Linked DNA regions of Homo sapiens. Changing the gene in region 1 together with any one later gene gives a genetic interaction. Each region holds a gene or a part of one and is shown in the gene's direction. Other genes may lie near its edges.

What was found.
Region 2: changes in SMNDC1 (region 1) and CENATAC together harm fitness more than expected from each alone (negative genetic interaction), as found in Homo sapiens cells (one large-scale study listed by BioGRID).

Annotation. Positions count from the first base shown.
Region 1 is NC_000010.11:110,298,338-110,301,989, reverse strand, and holds part of SMNDC1 (survival of motor neuron-related-splicing factor 30), read left to right. Parts: intron 1-1,253; exon of another isoform or gene 1,254-1,440; coding exon of another isoform or gene 1,441-1,443; intron 1,444-3,199; coding exon 3,200-3,342; intron 3,343-3,652. UniProt on the Homo sapiens protein: Involved in spliceosome assembly.
Region 2 is NC_000011.10:119,001,106-119,004,757, forward strand, and holds part of CENATAC (centrosomal AT-AC splicing factor), read left to right. Parts: intron 1-507; exon of another isoform or gene 508-720; intron 721-1,847; exon of another isoform or gene 1,848-2,488; intron 2,489-3,652. UniProt on the Homo sapiens protein: Component of the minor spliceosome that promotes splicing of a specific, rare minor intron subtype. Negative regulator of centrosome duplication.

The DNA of each region.
Region 1 (3,652 bases):
TTGAACTGGTTGGGTTGGGGAAGTTGGGAGTGGAGTTAGAAATAGCATTATCATCAGGTCTTTTTAATATTTCTAGAATAATTCCTCATTAGAGTCTGAGCAGAACTGCCTTACCATGTCATGATCATCATAGTGGAAAGTACTGTAGGGGGAAACCATTGTGATAAACACTGTAGTAAGCCCCTAAAAGGCTTGCTTGCAGGGGTTCAGTTAATAATGACCTGGAAATCATTTTTCTGTAAAGTATCCTCTTTTCTATAACCATTTAAAACAGCACTGTCCAGTAGAACTTTCTGTGATGATGGAAATGTTCTATATCTGCTATTCAGTACCATAGCCACTAGCCACATTTGGTTGGATATTTGAAATACAGCTAGGTTTACTTAGGAGCTGAGTTTTTAGTATAACTTAATTAGCCACACGTGACTACCATACTGGATGGCAAGGATTTAGAAGTGCAAGTTTTAATACTTCAGATAGTAATAACAGAATGTTTTTCCTGACCAGTCTTGATCAGAGTTTCTTCCCATTTTATTCTATCATTAGAAATTTCATTTTGGTCCCTAGATAAGGTCTATTTTGAATTGAAAACTACTCAAAAACGGAAACCATCTTTTAAGATGAGGTAATACTCTGAAAAGTATTTGGCTATAAGCTTCCACTCAGTAATTGTTGTCTCCATTGAGACTACACTTAACAGCTTCTATTTTGCTGTGGGGTTCCCCCCCTCATTCCCCTCCTTTTTCCTTCTCTGCCTTCTGGGATGTATCTCATGCTATGGGTATTTAATTCAGCTTGTTATATTTGGTGAAAAGTCTGTTCAGACTGATTTTGTGGCTTCCTCATATTAATATTTTTTGACCATCATATGGTTTCTAATTTCTTGTGTTCCTCTATAGAATTAGATCCTTATCCCAGTTATTAATTTGTTTGCCCTTTGTTTTATGACAAAATGCTTTTTTTGCATCTTTTCAATGACTTCATTTTGCCAGTAAGGTTTCCATGTTTATCTCTTTCATGTACTGTCTTTCATAGAGACTAAAGTTATTCAGCAGGCAGCAAAATAATCTACTAAAGTCCTGCCTTTCTTTTTTCACTTAAAAAAGTGGGTGTGATAAAATCCAGGCTAGCTAGCTGACTAGCTCCCCGGGCAGTCTATGATAATCAGAGATAGTCAATTTATTAGGCTGTTTTGCTGAATAAGCTGGTTCTAAAGGAGGCAGGGGTCAAGTCACTTGTCTCATATATTACAGTGGCTCTCTGCATCCCCGAAACGCCTTCCTTCAGTAAGCAGAGTGCTTGAGTGCACCCCATTTGACCTGCTGATATGTAGATCACAACACCTGATGCTTCCTGGAATTGCCGATTACTGTAACTGCTGCCCATCTGTCGATGAAGGAGCAGTTTCAGAACTCAGACTTGAGGGAGGAAAAGTAATTAATGGTATGTACCTTCAAGAACCCCCTCATACATAAAATAGTTTTTCTAATACTTTGGTCCATACGCACATGTGAAGAATAGAAATTTAGAAGGTTCTTCATAGTTTGTTGGGAGGGTTATGTAAAACCATGGCAAAGTTAAAGGACATTAGGAGTAAATGCTCTGGATTTTTTCTAAAAAAGGGTCATTTCAGCACAGGCCTCTGAATTCACTAATATGCACAGCTTTTCAGGACCCTTTTCTTTGATGAAATATATTTCTTTAACAAAATATATTTGGAAAACAGTTCTGTCCTAAAAGAAATAGAGTTCTAAATCTGAAACCTACAAGTGCAGAATTCATGTCTGTGCTTAAGTTAAATGATCCCTAGGTGGATCTGGAAGTATTTAATGATAGAGATTTGTGTGGGCTCTTGAGTCAGGCTGACTGGATTACATTCCTACCCCTAAAAGTGGTTAAAAATAAGACCAGATAATTTACTCTTCTGTTGTGTACTACTTGATCTAGTTATTTGGAAGGTTCTTTGCTTTGTTTGCAAAGGACTGTCTAATTAAAAAGATCTAATTAATGGCTAGTTGGCAACTAATAAAACTTAGAGATATTATTCCTACTAAATTTTTAAATCAAACCTAAGTGTTCTATTTATTTATTTATAAAACTAACCTTTCTTCAAGAGATTTAAGACTCAAATATTAGTTTTTTCAGAAATAGCCAGGAAGATTTAGAATCTTTAGGAGAGAGGTAATATTTAACTTTCTTGGCTACTGGAATCAAAATTACTATTATGAAACCTCAGTGGGAACTAGAAGAAACTCAGTACATAGTTTAACTTTGTTAATTTTTCTCCCCAAACACACAGTATGATGTTTTAAATGCAACAATGGGTGAACAGCTATGCAAGTTCTTAGATCAGATAAGATGCATAGTGTGGATCTTCATTAGAGTAACAATATAGTAGACAGGTAGCAGAATCTGTCGGCTTGTACTGTTCTCAATTTTTTAGCCATCCCTACACCAAACATCTTTGAATGAAGCCAATAAATGTAAGCCTGAATTAGAAAAAAATATTTGCCACACAGAAAGGCATTGCCTTTGTGTGTTACCTTTTTTTCCCCCTTTTAAATGAAGCTGTGCTAATGTGCTTAACATTAAGGTATGGAACATTTAAAATCTAACCTGGTAATTTGCTTACCCAGATGGGGTGAGTTTTACAATAATTGAATAGGAAGACCACTGGTTTCTTTTACATTGCCTGTAGTATTTTAGTCGAGATATGTATAAGTAGGAACATTTTTGTTACTAATAAAGCTGCTTAAAGTGTTTTGGGATTGCTTGGCAGTTAATACTGCTGAGTAATGCCCTATAAAACAGTACAGTTGCATAAAATATGTTACAATAAGAGTATCTAATTCAGTGCCTCATACTTGACTTTCTCATCTTTAGAGAGATCTATTCAGCTAAAATAGGCACTTAGAAATAATGCATGGTATAAGCTCAAGTCTTATATTTTCATTAGTATTTGTGGTTAAGTTGAAAGGCAACTATATGGGCTTAAGTCACAGCTCTGCCACTTAACTGGTAGACAATACTGTATCAGTTTCTACATGGGGATAATCACAGTACTTGCTTAATAGTGTTATGAGCTGCAAATGAAATATATGTAGAGTACTTAACGTACAGTATGAAGGCTGTCATCAGAAACTAAGTTGACAATGAGAATTATAAAAATAATGTTGTAGTTTTTGTTTTTCTTTTTTAGGAAGTTATAGAACTAACCAAAGACCTTCTGTCAACTCAACCTTCTGAGACGCTTGCAAGTTCAGACAGTTTTGCTTCTACTCAACCTACTCATTCATGGAAAGTAGGAGACAAGTGTATGGCAGTCTGGAGTGAAGATGGACAGTAAGTGTAGAAAAAAAAACTCTAACTATAACATGAAATAATAAAATACAATGGTAAGAAGTTTTTATTCAGTTTTAACTACCCTATTTTAATCTTGACTTCTATTAGGCAGTATGATTTATAGAGCCAATTTGATTCTTGGGTGGTTGCCATTAATACAGTTTAGTTTTAGCTTTAGATTAAGTTTTGGGGAGAAGAATGGCTGGGATTCTGGAGGAAAGAAAAACAGGACAATGAATGGGTGTTTTCTAAAATAATCTAAATTATTTTCTCTAATTGAAAATTGAGTGAATGGTTGGTTTTTCTGAGA
Region 2 (3,652 bases), on another chromosome or scaffold:
ATGACATTACTGAAAAATATGCAGGAACCATGAGTGATCACTTTTACTGTAATATGCAATTTACTGGTGAGACAACTGCTTACAAGATGATCAGCATTACTGTGTTTTAAGCAGATACAACACTTGAGTTCACTGCAATAGGTGGCTACAAAATTGTGACAGTTGTAGTTTGGATTATAATTTTATACAGTTATGTAATATTGCATCTTTACATTTATTTTCATTTCTCTTGACCGCGAATGTCACCATGTACAGTCTGTGTTTCTGTGTGTAAGTTTTGATAAATTTTAACTTTTTTTTTTTGGAGAGGGAGTTTTGCTTTGTCACCCAGGGTGGAGTACAGTGGTGCGATCTCGGCTCACTGCAACCTCTGCCTCCCGGGTTCAAGCGATTCTCCCGTTTCAGCCTGGATTTGTGTATTTTATGGTAGTAAATCATAAAAGACTAGTATCTACATATATTTTATGCATTCATGACATACCTTTTTAATTTTTTCCATATTTCTAGGCTATGTGGTTCATCTGCAAGTTTTTTCAAATTGTTGCAAATCTCCAAAAAAATTTTCAAGTGAACTCGTGCAGTTCAAACTTGTGCTGTGCAAGAGTCAACTGTATTTGCTTATTTTCTCAAAAAGGAATGCCTAAAGGATAATCAAGAAACTAATGAAACTGCCAGATGTGGTGGTGCACACCTGTAGTCCTAGCTACTCAGGAGGCTGAGGTAAGAGGATAGCTTGAGCCCAGGAGTTTGAGGCCATCCTGGGCAGTGTATCAAGACCCCATCTCTAAAAAGAAATACGAATTTTTTTTTAGAGAAGTTAATGAAATTGATCACATGGCCATGCTCAGTGGCTGACACCTGTAATCCCAGCACTTTGGGAGGCCGAGGTGGGAGGATCATTTGAGGTCAGGAGTTCGAGACCAGCTTGGTCAACATGGTGAAACCCCATCCCTACTAAAAATACAAAAAATAGCTGGGCGTGTTGGTTTGTGCCTGTAATCCCAGCTACTCGGGAGGGTGAGGCAGGAAAATCGCTTGAGCCCAGGAGGCAGAGATTGTACTGAGCCAAGATCATGCCATTGCACTGCAGCCTGGGCAACAAGAGCAAAACTCTGTCTCAAAAAAAAAAAAAAAAAAAAAAAAGAAACTGATCACATATCAGTTAGTGTAACCAGTTGGTGTGACCCAGTTTGTGGGTCAGTAAAAATGTTTAGAGTTGATAGGAATAGAAAAAAGATTTTTTTTTTTTTTTTTGGACAGTCTCACTCTGTTGCCCAGGCTGGAGTGCAGTGGCACAATCTCAGCTCACTGCAACCTCCACCTCCCAGGTTCAAGCAGTTCTCCCATCTCAGCTTCCAGAGTAGGTGGAATTACAGGCTTGTGCCACTACGCCTGACTAATTTTTGTATTTTAGTAAAGATGGGGTTTCACCATGTTGGCCAGGCTGGTCTTGAACTCCTGACCTCAAGTGATCCACCTGACTCGGCTTCCCAAAGTGCTAGGATTACAGGCATGAGCCACCACACCCGGCCTAGAAACAAGATTTCTATGTATACTTTTAAAAATAAGCTGTTGGTTTTTTTTTTTTTTTCTGATGGTACATTTGGGAATTATACTGTAACAGGCATAAGAAGTAAGATTTCTCCCATGCGAAATTTTGTATTCAGAATCCAATAGAAATATTTCAGGTTTTTTTTCAAGATGGAGTCTCGCTCTGTTGTCCAGGCTGGAGGGCAGCTGCGTGATCTCGGCTCACTGCAACCTCCGCCTCACAGGTTCAAGCAATTCTCCTGCCTCAGCCTCCTGAGTAGCTGGTATTACAGGCATGCGCCACCATGCCTTGATAATTTTTTTTTTAATGGTGAAAAGATATACATATATTTAGAATTAGCCAACTGGACTCAGTTGAGATGATCCCTATTTTGTTGGCAACATCCAAAGCATTGTAATCAGGAGCCAGTCGAACATGTTCCTTCTCTCCATCAGGCCGAATCAGGGTGTTGACCTTGGCCACATCAGTGTCATAGAGCTTCTCTGGTGCTGTGGCTTAACATTCACAGTGAACACAAGTGCGTGTGTCTTCTGTCTTCTTCATGGAGACTCAGTGGTCAGAGGAAACTTGATGATGCATAGTGGTCAAGCTTGTTTCTCCTGGGGGTGCTCTTAAGATATTTGCACTGCCTCCGGAGTCGCAATGTCTTGGGCCGCCAGAAGGCTAGTGATACGCGGATCTTCTTTTTTTTGTGGCTGTGGACACCTTTCAACACTGCCTTCTTGGCCTTCAGAGCCTTGCTTTGGCTTTAGGAGGGGCAGGAGCTTCCTTCTTAGCTTTTGGTGCCATCTTGTGAAAAGGGGCTGATTTTTGTATTTTTCGTAGAGATAGGGTGTCACCATGTTGGCCAAACTGGTCTCGAACTCCTGACCTCAAATGATCTACCCACCTTGGCTTCCCAAAGTGCTGGGATTACAGGCGTGAGCCACTGCACCCGGCCAATAATTAGAAATATTTCTCTCTCTTTTTTTTTTTTTTTTTTGGGAGACAGAGTCTTGTTCTGTTGCCCAGGCTGGAGTGGCATGATCTTGGCTCACTGCAACCTCCACCTCCTGAGTTCAAGCGATTCTCCTGCCTCAGCCTTCCGAGTAGCTGGAACTACAGGTGCATGCCACCACACCTGGCTAATTTTTGTAATTGTAGTAGAGATGGGGTTTTACCATATTGGTCAGGCTGGTCTCGAACTCCCGACCTCAGGTGATCCGCCTGCCTTGGCCTCCCAAAGTGCTGGGATTATAGGCGTGAGCCACCGAGCCCGGCCCAAATTAGAAATATTTCTAATCAGATATTTCCATGGTTATAGATATTTGGTTGCTTGGTTCATATGCATAGAAACAGTTGTCATAACTGTAAAAAGCAGTACTTAGCAAGTATTTCTAAGTGATTGGAATAGCTTTCCTTTAATGTTACAATACTGCCTATTGATTTGGAAATTAGATCACGCTCTATGATGTTTCGATTTTACTCAAAGGCATCATGAGTACTCTGCTCATTCTTTCATTCTTTATAGTTTTCTAGTTGAGTTAGGAACTATTTTATCAGAAATCATTTTAGCATTATAATAAGGGTAGATGACATACCATAATGATTTTCAGATTTTTTTTTTTTGAGACAGAGTCTTGCTCTGTTGCCCAGGCTGGAGTGCAGTGGCACGATCTCAGCTTACTGCAACCTCCGCCTCCTGGGTTCAAGTGATTCTTCTGCCTCAGCCTCCCGAGTAGCTGGGACTATAGGCATGCGCCACCATGCCCAGCTAATTTTTGTATTTTTAGTAGAGATGGGGTTTCACCATATTGGCCATGCTGGTCTCGAACTCCTGACCTCATGATCCACCCACCTTGTCCTCCCAAAGTGCTGCAATTACAGGTGTGAGCCACTGGTCCCAGCCTGATTTTCAGATTTTTAATAAAAAGGGTATCTGGATTAGCTGGGCATATAGTCCTACCTACTCTGGAGGCTAGCCTATAGTCCTACTTACTCTGGAGGCTAAGGCAGGGGGATCACCTGAGCCTGAGGGATCACTTGAGCCCAGGAGGTTGAACCTGCAGTGAGCTGTGATCCCACCACTACACTCCAGCTGGGCAGCATAGCAAGAATGTC